2 linked regions of the Homo sapiens genome follow. The protein of the gene in region 2 interacts with the protein of the main gene of each other region in a biochemical or structural test. Each region holds a gene or a part of one and is shown on either strand. Other genes may lie near its edges.

Region 1 (7,923 bases), on a different chromosome or scaffold from region 2:
GGACACGTGTGTGGACACGAGTGTGCACTCACCTGGATGTCCTCCAGGAGCTGCTTTCGGTGCCACTTGATCCTCTGTAACTCTTCCGTCTCCCCGCTGCTCAGCTCCGCGGGCTCTACAGAGAGACAACCGGCCTTCCCCATCACTTGGCTCCAGCCACACCCACTTGCCCTCACTTCTGCAGGGCCCCCTTCCCTCCGGAAACCCAGGACTTGCCCTATTCACAGAGGCCCACCTCCTCCAGGAAGCCTCCCCTGACTGCCCTGTCTAAAGCAGCCCCTGCTCCCTCCTCTCCTGCCCTGCTTCCTGTTTCTCCCACCCCCCTGGATAGACACCCCCAAAAGGATCCTGTTTCCTTGCATCTTTTCTGTCCCTCCCGCTAGACTCTCGGCTCCATGAGAGTTCAGTTGTTCTACTCTTTTGCTCACTACTGTGTCCCCAGCACCTAGAAAGAGTCTGACATGTCATAAGCACTCAGTTAAACACTCGCTGAAGGCACGCATTCCTTCCCCGGAACTTGAATCTCCTCCTCCACTGGCTCATGGGCTCATTATTTATTCACTTATTTATTTGAACAACCAAGAAGTGGTATACCATTTTCCTCACATCCCATTGGCCAGAATGTAGTCACGTGGCCACACCTAGCTGCAAGGGAGGCTGGGAAATGAGCCTGTAGCAGGGTGGTCCTGATGTCCTTACTGTGTAAAATGGGGAGGCTGGATTTGGGGGATATTTTATAGTCCCTGCCCCTGGATACTGGGGCTCAGAGAGGTGAGGTGACTCAACCCACAGGGAAAAGGTCACTGAGCCAGGATGGGACCTTGAATTGGGCTGACTCCAAAGCCTGTGCTCTTTCATCTCCACTTGGAAATGAATTAAATGAAATAAGATTTGTGTGTGCGGCATTCTATGCAAGGTGCTGTGATGATGCCCACAACTAGGTCAGCTGTCCTATCTTCATGCTTCATGGTGGCTTCTGTTTCATCCACAACACTCTCCTTCTCTGAGTAATATGGCCTCCCTATTACTCAGAGAGAAAGTCTTCATCCTGGGCCTGGGGCCTCCACAACCTCTCCAGCCTTGGCAGCCAGACTTATTCCCTGCCATTCCCAAAAAGAGCCTGCCAGTCCAGCCTGCCAGCTCCTTCCTGCTCCAGAGCCATCCAGGACTCAGTCCCACTTCCCCATGTTTGCCCAGGCCGCTCCTGTACTCTGGGATGCCTTCTCCTGTCTGCCTGCCCAAATCCTCGCTGACCTTCAAGTTCCAGCGTCGGGAAGTGCCTGGCCGCATTTCTTAAAGGTTTTACAAGGATAGACATCATTTCCTCCAAAAGAACACAGAGGGAATGTTGAGCGCTCCCTTTCCCTACTTCTCCTTCTCATGATTAAGCAGGCATTGTGGCTGTTGAGATTAAAGCCCCATGCGGAGATGCAGGGCACCAGGCTAGATGGAGCCCAGGTCCCCAGGCAGCGGTGTGGAGAAGACTCATCATGTTCACCTGGCCCACCTATCCATTTGGACTTTTCAATAAGAAATAAATCAGTTTTGAGAATGTTTCGGTTGCTGTTATTCTGAGTCTCTTTAAGCAGCTAAATCTGAGATATACCTAATACAGCATCCTCATCTGTGAAATGTGAACCATAACCCTTGCCTCACAGGGCAGCTGTCAGGAAGGAAAGAGCTACACTTTGTCAAACACCCAGCAAGAATCCAACATATGCTGAGTCCCACATGTGTGCAATGGGTGCTGTGTGCATCTGGCTCTTCTCTTCAGGACCAAGGCACCATCCCCCCAGCTGCTGGGAGGAAAGCCTGCTGATGGCTCACAGCTGAATCCCTCCCCAGACACTAGCCTCAGCCAAAGGGAGGTGCCACGCCCAGGAGTTCCCCTGACCAAGGGCAGCCACTGCAATAAAAAGCCAAGTCCCGGTCAGGCAAGGTGGCTCACGCCTCTAATCCCAGCACTTTGGGAGGCCGAGGCGGGCGGGTCACGAGGTCAGGAGATCGAGACCATCCTGGATAACACAGTGAAACCCCATCTCTACTAAAAATACAAAAAATTAGCCAGGCATGGTGGTGGGCACCTGTAGTCCCAGGTACACCGGAGGAGGCTGAGGCAGGAGAATGGCGTGAACCTGGGAGGCGGAGCTTGCAGGGAGCCCAGATCATGCCACTGCACTCCAGCCTGGGCAACAGAGTGAGACTCTGTCTCCAAAACAAAACAAAACAAAACAAACAAAAAAACCCAAGACCCCTTGCCTGGTTTCAGGACCTACCCCAGTTTTCAGATACAGAACGTCGGGACTGAAGGAGAGGCTGGGTTCCAAGGGAAGAGTCCTGCAACATTGTGGCAAGTATATATGGCAATGACTCCCTGGTTCCACATTAAAACACCTGTGGCCATTCACTCCAACAACTGTACACTGGGGAAAGAGCAATATCCAAACATTCTGAGGATTGTTGGACACAGGATCCAAGTTGACATCAGCGCTCAAGACTGAAGTGTCTTCAGGGCCACATTTGAGTGGGGGTACATAGAGACCAGGTGGTAAATGAAGTCCTTCCAGGTCCAGCTCACTAGGGGTCTGCTTGATTCATGGCCACTTTCCTGGCCTACAGATGTAGAATTGGAATGGACATCGCTGGTACTTGAGCCCATATTGGTACCTTGGCCCATGGGGTCAGGATCATTGTAGTGGGAATAGCTATTTGGAAATTTATGAAGCTGACCCATCATCCCCACAGCGAAGAGACTAAATAAAAAACTATATCCTGAGGGGAATGGCAGGTGTGGGTGCCACTCTTGAGACCTAACGGATGCAGGAGCAATGGCCCTCATCACATACCCAAGCACTTCCCCGGTCGGGAGGATGGCCTGCTCCTTCCAGCTGCTTCCTTCTAGCAGAGAATTATATACTATGCAGAAAACAGTTCCTGGAATGGCACCGGGTCCTGGTAGAGATAGAGTGCCAGCCCACGGAACATCATGTAACTAAGTAGCTCAGATGGCTCCATCTGTCCCACTAAGTCAGAAGGTCAAGCGAGCCCAATAGTAACCCTTTGTGAGTGGTACGTCCAGGAGCAGGTGTGAGCAGAGCCAGAGGGCTCCAGTAGGCTCCAGGGATAGGTGGCCCAGATCCTCATGTCACCGCTGCTGGTGGACCAGGGTCTATCCCTCTGCTTACACCGTGACCACATGGGTGGGTCCCTTATGACTTTCTAACAACAGAGGAAAATGCCCAAGGCTGGTTGCAGAATGAGTTGGCTCAGAGTTTGGGCGCAAGTGAAAACCAGGCAGCTACTGAACTACAGTCCTGCTCAAAGGTGTCCTGGAAAGACAGTGATGAGGGCAAGTCCTCCCAGGGGGCAGGGCTTCAGGCAGGGCACCTGGCCATCCACTTCCTGTGGAAAGAGAAGTGACTTCTTGAAGTCAGAATATCCATGCATCATGGGCAGTGGTGAATGGCTTGACTTCTTGGTCAGAGGCAAGAAAGAAGGAAGATGGGAAGATCAGAAACACAGATGTCAGGAGAAGAGGCAGGTGGATGACCCCGTGGGAGCGGAATGTCCACTCTGCCAGCAACAGGGACGCATGCTGAGCCCATCTTTTCTCCAGAAGACCAGGGGGCAAACTGATTCCATGAAACCCCTTCTATTCTGCAAAAGTCAACAATCCATCTTGTCTGGAGTCGACACGTGTTGGAAATGTGTTTGCCTTTCCTGCCCACAGAGCCTCAGCCAGCACCACTATCCAGAGGCTTAGGGTGTTTGACCCACCAACACAGCACACCACATAACATCACAGAAGACCAAGGGATGCTCTCTACAGCAAAGGTGGTCTGAAGTGAGCACGTGGCCATGAGATCCACCGATCCTCTCTAGCATTTCATCGGAAGGTGCTGGCCGGATGGAATGGAGCCATGGGGCGGTCTTGAGAAGGTACAGCTGAGGTGTCAGCCTGGAGGTGATATCCACTTGGATGGGGCGCCATCCTCCAGGAGGCACCATATGCCCTAAATCTACCACCACTGTGTGGTGCTCTGTCTCCAGCAGGTGGACCACAAGGGTCTACGAGCTGAGGGGTAGGAGTGGGAGTGGCCCCACCTGCCATTCTCCTAGTGACCCACTCTGGAGTTTCCTTTTTTTTTTTTTGAGACAGTCTTGCTCTGTCACCCAGGTTGGAGTGCAGTGACATGATCTTGGCTCACTGCAACCTCTGCCTCCCAGGTTCAAGCGATTCTCCTGCCTCAGCCTCCCCAGTAGCTGGGATCACAGGCATGCACCACCATGCCCGGCTAATTTTTTATTTATGTATTTATTTTTTTGAGACAGAGTCTCACTCTGTCACCAGGCTGGAGTGCAGTGGCACGACCTTTGCTCACTGCAACCTCTGCCTCCCGGGCTCAAGGGACTCTCCTGTCTCAGCCTCCTGAGCAGCTGGGACCACAGACATGAGCCACCATGCCCAGCCAATCTCTGTATTTTTAGTAGAGATGGGTTTCACCATGTTGGCCAGGATGGTCTTGATCTCTTGACCTCACAATCTGCCCACTTTGGCCTCCCAAAGTGCTGAGATTACAGGCGTGAGCCACCGCACTGGGCCAATTTCTGTATTTTTAATAGAGACGGGGGTTTCACTATGTTGGCCAGGCTGGTCTCGAACTCCTGACCTCAGGTGATCCACCTGCCTTGGCCTCCCAAAGTCCTGGGATTACAGGTGTGAGCCACTGTGCCCGGCCCACTCTGGAGTTTCTTTCTGTCTCTGCAGGTCTAGAGGTACTGTTTCCAGGAGGGAGTTGGCGGGGACACTTATACCAGGGGACAAAGCAAGAGTCTTATGACCCGTTAAGCGCACAAACACCTACTCCATGCCAGTCTCTGTATAACTGCTGTCATTTAACCCTCTTTGAAGTAGGTATTTTCCAGTTTGAGACACTGAGGCTTAGGAAGGCGAAGTGACTCGCCCCAGGTCTCATTCACAGGAAGTGGCAGTGCTGGGAACTGCACCCTTGTTTGCTGACCCCCACGCCTCTGCCCCAGGAGAGGTGGATTCCCAAACTGCTTGGGACATGCAGGGATGGAAGGTGTAAGGGGCCACCTGTGTGGAGATGCAGAGCAGGGACAGCCGGGGAGGCAGTGCTGGAAGCTGGCTCCGGAACTCTTCCGGCAGGAGCTGGCGGGGAGGCCGTTGGTCTCATCCATGGGAAAAAACCAATCACCTTGGGTTGCCTTGGAGGTGAACAATCCGATTCTGTTTTGTTTTGTTTGTTGGCTTTATACAGTTTTCCTGTTGGCTTGGGGTTGTGTTTCTGCCCAGGGCGCACCTGCTGGAGGAGGCTGAGTGGATTCCAGACTGGCTGCTTGTCTGAGAGAAGCCAGGGTGGGCTCCAGCATTCCTACAGATGCTCCAAGGTGTGGATGGCCAGAATTGAGTGATGGGGCTCCTGAAGCTCCTCCTAGGCCGACCTTCCTGGTCCCCATGGGGCTTCATCAGCTCCTGGCTCCCACCTGCCTTCAGGGTCCAGGGAATCATTCACACATCCTCTGTTCCAGCCCCTTCTCTGAGCTTCAGATCCAACCATCCCCTATGTATTGGTCACCACCGCTCTTGTCATTGTGCCCAAAATTGAACTTCTAGAATGCCCCCTCCTCCCCATCCTCTTCCTGAATTCCTGAGCTCTGGAAATGGTCCACATTTCCCCAGGAGGCACTCTGACTCCCACCTGGCTGTCACCCCTTGGGTCTCCTCCATCACCAAGTCCTGTCTATTTCTTTCCCCTTCCATGGCTCCACTGTCATCCCAGCCGCTATCGCTTTGCTCAGGGGGACTTCAGGGCTTTCGGATGCCTCCCTGCCTCTTCTACCCATTCTGGTCCAGTTTCCCATGGCATCCCATTGTCCTGGGGACAAAGACCCCAAATCTCACCAGTCCTGCTGGTGTATCCCCTCCATGCTCCTCTCACACTGTGCCCCTCCCCGTCCCAGCTCCGTGCTCTGCCTCCCTGGCTGCCCTTCATTCACTCCCCTGAGCTCTAGCCTTCCAAAAGCCTTTGCACCACCATTCCTTGTACCCAGAACGCCCTTCCTTCTCCTCTCTGCCAGCAGCCCCTCCTTATCTCCTACTTCAGATCCCTTTTCAGGGGTCCTCCTGGGTTCCATCTAGGAGCCATCCCTGCCCCCACCCCTTCCCATTCCCCACAGCGTTTCTGGGATCTGCATGGCTCAATAACCAAGCCACGCCGTTGGTTAAGGAAGGCATGGTGGCTGAGCACCCATGGTGCGCCAGGCCCTGTGTGATCCAGGCTCTTCCCATCCACTCTCATTGAATCCCACAACCACTCCGAAAGGAAAGGTACTTCTAAGCTCATCCTACAGGTGAGGCCCCTGAGACTCAGAGACGTGAAGTGTCCTGCCAAAGGTGACACAGCTGGAGGGTGGCAGAGCTGGGATTCACATCTGGGTCCATCTGGGGCTCGGAGGCTTACAGCCCTGATGTTGATCTTCCGAAGGCTGATCTCTCCATACGAACCATCAAACACCCGTCGGACGCTAAATCTGGGTTTCTGACGGGGTTACACGTTTCAGAATAAAGGCAAGATGCAGAATGATGCCTGCAGTTGCCCCCACCCAACCCCTGCAAAGCCAACTTTGCAGAGCTGGGGAAACTGAGGCACGGTTCCCAGGGGAGTGGGATTGCATGGGAATAGTGAGCAGGTTGCTTGTATTTTTACTGCATACAGCTCCTTTCATACTCCCTTCTGGTTGACAAGTGTGTTCGTGAATCCTCAGTCCCCTGTCCCCTTCTGACGGGGGTCCTGTCCCGAATAGGTGGCAACTGGTCAAAGCATCTGAACCCACATGAGGGTGATGATGGCCCCGGGCTTGCTGTGTCTTACATGGTGCACACGGAGCCTACTGACCCTTCCTCTATTTGTTAAAAAGAGGAGATTCCTCCCCATTTCAGAGTTTCAGGCACCGGTGTAGGCTCATGGGATATGTTTTTTTGTTTGTTTGTTTGTTTGTTTGAGACGATGTCTCTGTCTGTTACCCAGGCTGGAGTGCAGTGGCCTGATCTCGGCTCACTGCAACCTCCACCTCCCAGGTTCAAGTGATTCTCCTGCCTCAGCCTCCCAAGTAGCTGGGATTACAGGCGCCCACCACCAGGCCCGGCTAATTTTTTTTTGTATTTTTAGTAGAGACGGGGGTTTCACCATGTTGGCCAGGTTGGTCTCGATCTCCTGACCTCTGGTGATCCACCTGCCTTGGCCTCCCAAAGTGCTGGGATTATAGATGTGAGCCACCATGCCTGGCCAGGAGATGAATTTTTAAATACTAATAATAATACACACAAATAATAAAATTACCACCACCACCACCACCACCACACACCCCGTTTCCTTCTCACTTATCTCTGTGCTTCTCACAACCTCACAAGGTGTGACATGAACCCCCACCCCAAGCCCACAGGCTGGTGCTGCCCTTGCGCCCAGGCTGGTGAATGTGCCCATCTCCCCGGCTCCTCCCCACTTCCTCTTTGTCCTTCCTCTTTCCCATCGTATTTTTAGAAATCTTTGAGCTTGCAGCCCTGCTTCCAGGACAGCTGGCCTCACTTCCCCTTTCCAGGGCAGGAGGAGGATGCCATCTCAGGGCCCTAAATAAAGAGGCCCCTCAAAGTCTCAGTAGGAGGGACCCTGGGGCAGAGGGGGTGTGGGTGGAGCTGCTCCCCGCCCCAGCCCCACAAGCCCCACAGGCTCTGCGGAGTGCGGCTTCCTCCCCCGCCGCCCCCCCACCGCCCCAGCCGAGCTGGCTCTATTTTTAACTGCGCTGCCTGTCTTCTCTGCACCAGCACAGTGCTTGTCTTTGGCCACACTGGGGCTTTGCTGTCTGGCCCTCTCACCTTCCCGGCAGGCCCTGGGGGAGGGC
Region 2 (7,923 bases):
AAGCTATTCACAAACCCTGCTCAAAAGTGTCTGGAGCTCTTCAATTTAAGAAAAACTGGAAGTCTACAGGCTGGTGTTGCAAACCAAAGAAAAATAGGTGGAAGGGCACTTTATGTCACACTGTTATTTCTGCTATTGTTATTTGTTGTTCCTTCAATACTCTTTACATTGCCAATCCTAAATAATTTCCCTTCTGGTATCTGCTAATCACAGAAAGAATCAGTAATTTCCAGGGGCAAAAGGTTAAAGCACTGCTTTCCTAAACCAGGGCATCAGGGTGCAATCTGAGGATCTGAATGTTCTCTCTGTCAGGTCACCACAGGTCAAACTCATCTTCAGTGGCTTCCCTAGGTGGAGAAGTACCCACATGTTTGCTGGGCCAAACTGACTGGCCTGGCCTCTTATCTTAGAGAAGTTTCTAGCAGTACAACTTGCTTCTTGTTTTTTGTTTTTATTTCTTAATGCTAAGGTTGTTTTTTGTTTGTTTGTTTGTTTACAGAGTATTAAGGCTTCTTAGTAAAGCTTGGGGAACTATTCAACAACTATTTCCATTTTGTTTGCAGATATAATTCAGGTGGTTCCTTCCATTTGAATGTCAAGCCACACTTTGAAGCTATAAAACAAAATAGGTTGTGTGAACAATTTGTTACGGGTAGGCAGGGCCAACATGGGTACTTGGTGGGTTGTGGTTATTCCTATGGTGAGAAATATTCATGGTGATTAGTAAGGGAAGACTTTCATATTGTTTCTCTATAGCTCTCTTTAACACAATGATTTCTAAATTTCTATTAGTCTTTAATGAAAAGATGACATTAGTTGTGTTGCCTTTGGTCTAAGGTTTGCAGGCATAAATGGCACAAAGCTTAAAGTTTATTTAATAGAAAGGATAATCTAAGATGAAAGTCCTTTGCTGGTTAAAAGAGTGACTTACAAGAGATAGAAATCTAAATTTAAGAGCTCATGGGGGTTGGGGTGGGGAAGAAAATGAAAAATTATGAATGCATGCCCCATTTTTTTCCCACAAGATTTCCTGAGCATTCCTCAGACACAGTGCAACATCATAACACCAGTGAATCAATAGTATTTCTATTTTTCTCAAGCAAAAAGTATAGACTCATCAAATATATACTAAGCACAATATATAATAGTATATCATCTTTTAAACACTAGTAATTTGAACTTCTATAAATATATTTAAATAACAAACATAGCTATTCACATAGCACACAAGTGACATATAAACATACAAAAATAAATCCCTCATGTTTAACTCTTTTGTTGCTTCCATGGGTTTTTGTTTTTTTGTTTTTTTGAGTAAAGATATTAAAACAATTCAGATGCCAAAGTCGTCTTGTCAATATTGATCCTGGGAAACCTGGATATAAATTCACACTATGTATAGGGATCACAGCCAAGGACAAGAGCAGTAGACATTCTTTGCGGAACATATTCCTATCTCCTACCATTGAGTAGGAAAGCTCAAAGGAAGTAGAGGTCTCCAATTGTGATGAGATGTTTTCTCTAGCTGTTGTAAGGAAAGGAAACATTAATCAGATCCCCTAACCTGCATAAAGTGTGAAAACACCAAGCTGTCCTTTGAATGAGTGGAATATGGAACACGCCTCCTCCTTCAGCTCTCCCACATGCCACTGTCTATGAAGCATTTCTCATCACATGGAAAAGGCACCACCATTCCATACCAAAGGCAAGGAATTTTTGTTCTGCAACACCACGTTTGTCCTTCCAGTCACTGCTCTAGAAAACATTCCTCCACTCAAACAGTGATTTGGGCCACACAGCTTCCCAGTCAAGTGGAATATGTACATTCTTCTTTTGAAAAACAGAATGTTTCCATGGGCAATTACTCCTGGTAAAATTTGATTCTTGTCCATAGCATTCTCTGGAGAGCAATGAACAGAAGAGACATTTCTCACATCCCCCCTAGAGCCCCACATCACCGTGAGCTCCCAGTAGGAACACAAAAAACGCCTTTCAACTGAACTCAATCATTCCAATCTCAATGGATGCGTTACGACTGAAATGAGGAGCCCTGGTGTATTCGGTGATTATCTTCATCTAACGTGCATCTTTAGATGGGAAGCTGATGCTTGAAGGACTGGGTTTCAGTTTTCCTTTTAAGGAAAAATGTAAGCTTTTGCAACATCTTGAAGAGTTGCTTGTGATAAAATATAAGAGGAGAAAACCCTGACTTTGTCTCAAATGGAATTTTCAACAGAGGGAGAAGAAGGTGATTTCTTGAGTTCCTGGGGGGTGTCATCAGTGTCATCAGGGGCAGGCGAAGCCCGCTGCTGCTGATAGATGTCCTGGATCAGCAGGGTGTTCATGACTTTCCACTCTCTGTATTTCCTGGCTGTCAGCTTCGGGTCATCCAGCAACTGGTTAATCATGGCCAGATCATGTTCTTTACACTGTGTGAGTAGAAAAAAAGGGGAAGGGGGTATGTTGAGAGTGTCTTAATTTACATAAACCATCTTTACCAACTCTTTTACAAGTACACATATACATAAAATTACCAAAGCATTTTTGCACGTTAATGTTCTAATTCCAGCATTAAGCTTAAGAAATACGACATTTGTTTGCATACGCTAGCCGCAAAGAAGTGAAGTATCCTACCCAAGAGTTAGTGGAAGAGCTAGACATATAGCAAAGATCTTCTATGTTGCCTTTCCCTGATCAATCCATTATTCCACACCACAGTAACAATTCTACCTTGGTGTGGGAATCATGCCTCCTAAAACTTACCATTGTAGGTATTAGCATTTTATTGACAATCCAAACTTCACTAAGTAAAATTGGAACGTAACACTTTACCTAGGACATATGGCAACATAAAATATGTCTTTTAAGATTTTATTAAATTATCTTTATTTTTAATAAATCACATTTATTTAATACAGAATAAATACACAGATTATCTTTTCAGTCAAAGAAGAGGCTACTAACCTTCCATCAAAACAGTATGTATTCCAATAATGCTAATAAACAACCTATTGGTGCTATTCCATTCTGCCTCCTCTGTAACCAATGGCACACATTTCTGAAATGTCTAGCTCAGGTTAGAGTTTTCTATAGACAAGGAATGGAGTATAAATAAGATGTTCATCCTCCATATTAAAAACAAATATTCAGCCCTGACAATTGTATCTCAAATCTATGCCTGTTTTCTCCATCCCATGACCATAATCCTAAGGTTGGATATCCAGTTCAATATATCACGTTTGATCTGCTGCCACAGCCTCCTGAGCGAGACCACTGCCTCCAATGCCCACTTCAACTCCACCTCCACTTAGCAGAGCAGGGATGCATGTAAATGCCGAGTCCCCCTCATGGATCCCCTTACACCCAAGGCTCCTCACCTGCACTGGCACCATTTGTTGATACTCTGCTTCCTTTTGACTTCCCAGTCTAATGTACTGGCATGCATTTTCTCACCCACACAACACTAGCTCACACCTCCGTGTTGTTGTGCCACATGAAGAATCTTCCTTGCCTTTCTTCACCTCATAAACTCTAATTTCTAGAGTTTCTTTTACACAGAACACTTTCCAGTCTTTCTTTACCCAATTTTTTTCTTTTCTTTTCATTTTTTTTTTTTTTTGAGACAGAGTCACTCTGTTGCCCAGGCTGGAGTGCAGTGGCCCAATCTCAGCTCACTGCAAGCTCTGCCTCCCAGGTTCAAGCGATTCTCCTGCATCAACCTCCCAAGTAGCTGGGATTACAGGCATGCACCACCATGCCTGGCTAATTTTTCTATTTTTAGTAGAGATGGGGTTTCGCCATGTTGACCAAGCTGGTCTCAAACTCCTTAAACCTCAAGTGATACACCCACCTCAGCCTCCCAAAGTGCTGGGATTACAGGCGTGAGCCACTGCACCTGGCCTACCCAATTTTTCAAAACCCGTAAATCTATACTTGAGGCATCACATTGTCCAGGAAACCTTCCCTGCACTCCCAAAATTGGACTGATAAGCTTTTAAGTTTTTATGTTCTCATGCCTTCCAATGATGCCCTCTGAGAACTTACCGAGGTACATTTAGGTATTTACGGGTAAGTCATGGCCCCTCTTCTAAAGCTTAAAGAAGATGACAAGAAACATTTCCTTCATCCCTGTATTCCCTGCACCTAACGCAATGCCAAGTGCCATGTAGACATTCAATTCATGCATGTGATTGAACTACTCTTTTTGACTATCCCCAGGACAGCATGTGTGAAACTAAAACTTCACAACCACTGCCAGTAAGTGGATTTTCACTACTCTCCAGTCATCACATTTTCACATCCTTTTTCTGGCAGTCTCCCAAATGACTATTTCAAAACTCTTCTCATCTCAAACCCCCTCTCTCATCCTCACTCGCAGCTGATGGCCTTGCTATCTCTTTGTTGAGGAAATGGAAGCCATCAGAAGAGCACTTCTCCCAAGTTCCTATTGCCCACGAACTACATGGATGCAAATCTATGCTGCCTTCTGCCCTGTTCACAGAGATGGAGCATCTGTGCTCCTAGTAAAGGCCAATCCCTCCACTTGGGCACAATGGCCCCCGCTCTCCTACTCAAGAAATTCATCCCAGCAATTCTGTTCTCTCCTCTGACTCACCAACTTTCCAGATCCCCTCCAGCAGTCTCACTGGTACACATGTTTGCTGTTATTTCTTGCATGTTAAAATTCCTCTCTGCCCCCAAATCCCTGTCCAGCTAATGCTCTACTTTTTCCTGTCTCCAGTGGCCCATTCTGCATAGATTCAGTCCCATCAGGGTTTGGCCCCCACCATTCACCAAAACTGCTCTTGTGAAGACCATCAGTGACCTCCATGTTGTTAAATCCAATAAACCATTAAATCAATGTTAAACCAATGATCCATCTTCAACTTATTTATCAGCAGCACCTAAAACAATTGACTACTCCTCCTTCTTGAACAGTTTCATTGTTGTGCTCCTATGATACATTCTCCTGATTTTTCTTGTACCACAATTGCTACTTACTCCCACCTTAGTTGCTGATTCCTCCTTGTCACGCCACCTCTTCTCACTGGAGTGTTCTAAAGCCCCAGCTTGTATCCTGTTCTCTGCTCTATCTATGTTCATGCTGTTGGTAATCACAAGAAATCTCTCCCACTCTCCTATGTGCTGAGGGTCCCAAGTTTATATCTCTCCTTACTTCTTCCCTGGACTCCATCATCATTTGTCTAAACTTCCTCTTCAGCAGTTCCACATCAACCCCTAAGAGGCATCTCAAAAATAACATATCTAAAGATAAGTTCCTCTTATTCTCTACATCCCCACCCCACCAACTTCCAATGCACACCAAACCCGGTTCCTACCGTAGTCTTCCACAAAGCACTTAATGGTAACTCCGTCTTTCCAGTTGCTCAGAGCAAACACTGGAGTCATTCTTGACTCCTTCTACCACACCCAATCCACCAGCAAAGGCTGATGGTTCTACCTTCAGACATGACACAAAGCATGCCATCCTTCTGTTCAGAACCTTCCAGAGGGTCACTGTCTTACTCCGAGCAGAAGCTGGTGTTTGCAATGGCAATGAGATCCTCAATGGCTCGAGTCCCTGCTGCCCCTCCAGCCCACTGCTGCACTCCCCATGCTCCATCCCCACTACATTACAGCTACCTTGACCTCCTTGCTCTTCCTTAAATGCCCTAGGCACACTCCCGCCCCAAGGTGTTTGTGTTTTTGTTCCTTTTGCCTGAAATATTCGGCCTCAGAGAACCTCAAGCCTCATTCCCTTTCCTTTTTCAGATTTTACACAAATTATGTCTTTCAAAGAGGCCTTTCATGTCCTTCCTAATTAAATATCAATTCCTCAACATGTTCTATCCCCTTTTCTATTCTTTATCAAATCTATCATCACTTATCATATTATACATTTAATAGTCAATTATGTTTGTTTATTCTCCTACTAAAACATAAGCTTCCGGAAGGCAGGCCTTTTTATCTGACATGCCCAGTGCTATAGCCCCAAGTGCCTGAAAGAATGACTGCACATGTAGACTGTTTACACATGTAGACATTCGTTGAATACTTGTTGAAAAAATGAATATATAAAATAAGAAATAAATGAATAAATGAATTACCAATTTGCTTTTTATTCTCTTTTGCATTCTGAACCCTATTTGGAGTCTGAGGAAATCCTTTCCATTAAACAAAAAAACTAGACATAGATTCATAGATCAATAGCTGGATAGATAGATATTAATAGATAGATAGATAGATAGAAGATAGACATATAGATGGATAAAGATAGGAATCCTTCCTTCCAAAATGGAGAAAAAACAGTGCAGTAGGAAAGCAGAGGGATTGTTTATAGAAAGTTAGGCAGGGCCAAAAGAGCATATTTCTTCTTTCTGAGTTTTCAATATCTATGCTTCCAAAACAACTTTTCCAAAACAACAACAACAACAAAAGCTTTCTTCCTCTGATATCACCATACTGCTATTAATGTAAAGTTATTTAAAGAGTTTTATTTTGTTCTAAAGAAATTTAGACATCTACTTCAAAGGAAGATCCTAATTTTTCATATTAAAAAATTAAATAAGATCTTTGAAAATTAATAAAAATTGGGGAAACTGACTTTGCATACATGAATTAACCCCTCTTTATAGCTAATAAAATTTTTAGAACAGGGTCTCTTCAACTTTGGGCATTAAGCTGACACTTCTCATATGGCTTTTGGCTCTAAGTAGTTCAAATTTTTTACCATTTGGCTCAAATCTGTGTTAGTTCTTCTATGGATGAAAGAAAAAAATGTAGACAATAATACAGAAGAAGGAAATTAATGAAACAACAGAACCTTCCAAGCTCCTTCCTACACCAGGCATCCTGGGGCTGGGCCTCATCCAGCAGCCCAGCTTCTCCTGGATGGCGCATGAGGCTTTTGGAGGGCTTTGAACTACTTTCACAACATCCGCTCTGCTTTCTGGCAGGCAAGCAAGGTTTGGCAGGGATTCCAAAAATACCATGAAAGAGAGAATGCTGTACTTTCAGTTTTTACTCCAAATAGTCAGTGTGTGGCTCGACTCAAGACCTAAGCATTGGAAATGTGTTCCACCAGAGTAGCTACGGGAAGAAAGGGTTCACCGCTCTTGTGACATAGGTCAGAGTAACTCAGAGAGAGTTTCAGTTGGACCCATTAATCATTCCATTAATAACTTATTTTAAAATAAAAGCAGACTTAGCCAAAAGTCAGTGAATGATGAGCTGTTAGAAATTCCTAAATATCTGTATTTAGTGTACAACATAATACGATCAACTTTTGCTCAAGTTCAACTTGGAAGTTTGCTCAACTTCCTAGAAGAATTTCCCTGAAGTGCATTCATTCCAGTACTATCCCAGTGCAGGGATTTTTCTTATTTACGGAATGCACCTGCGGCAAATATAAACATTATTGTTAAAACAGTTTCCTTGTTTCTGCATGAAACTCTGTTGTCTTTGCTTGTCTACACTCCTACTTTGGAGCTTTTAAAACATAAACATTTCCTCTGTGTATGATATATTCTCTGTGCAATATATCATACTCAGAGAAAAGTGCACAAATAGAAAAATTGTGCTTAAAGAATTATCACAAAATAAACACTTCCATACCACTACTACCAGGGTCACAGAAGGACCCGCACCCAGCACTCAGAAGCTCCATTCACATCCCCTCTCAGTCCCATCCTCTCCTCTTCCTCAAAGACAACCACTCTCTTGACTGCTTTGAATTTTAAAAACAATTAGAAATAATTATTATACCCTTCCAACATGAACATGCACACATGTACCAAGTTCTCTCTCTCCTTTGAATAGGTTGATGCACTTTGCTTTTGTTCAGCTTCTTCAGCAAGACCAATTTCCACATCAGCATGTCCTCCTACCTCCTGAGATTAATAGGACTGCATGACATGGGTCCTG

Evidence for each region. Proteins that work in one complex are often made in the same cells at the same time.
Region 1: the proteins of IPCEF1 (region 2) and CYTH4 form a complex in vitro, tested with the Homo sapiens proteins (one study listed by BioGRID).

The regions. Positions count from the first base shown.
Region 1 is NC_000022.11:37,284,813-37,292,735, reverse strand, and holds part of CYTH4 (cytohesin-4), read right to left. Parts: intron 135-7,923; exon of another isoform or gene 116-134; coding exon 33-115; intron 1-32. UniProt on the Homo sapiens protein: Promotes guanine-nucleotide exchange on ARF1 and ARF5. Promotes the activation of ARF factors through replacement of GDP with GTP.
Region 2 is NC_000006.12:154,157,612-154,165,534, forward strand, and holds part of IPCEF1 (interactor protein for cytohesin exchange factors 1), read right to left. Parts: intron 2,430-7,923; coding exon 2,217-2,429; 3' UTR 1-2,216. UniProt on the Homo sapiens protein: Enhances the promotion of guanine-nucleotide exchange by PSCD2 on ARF6 in a concentration-dependent manner.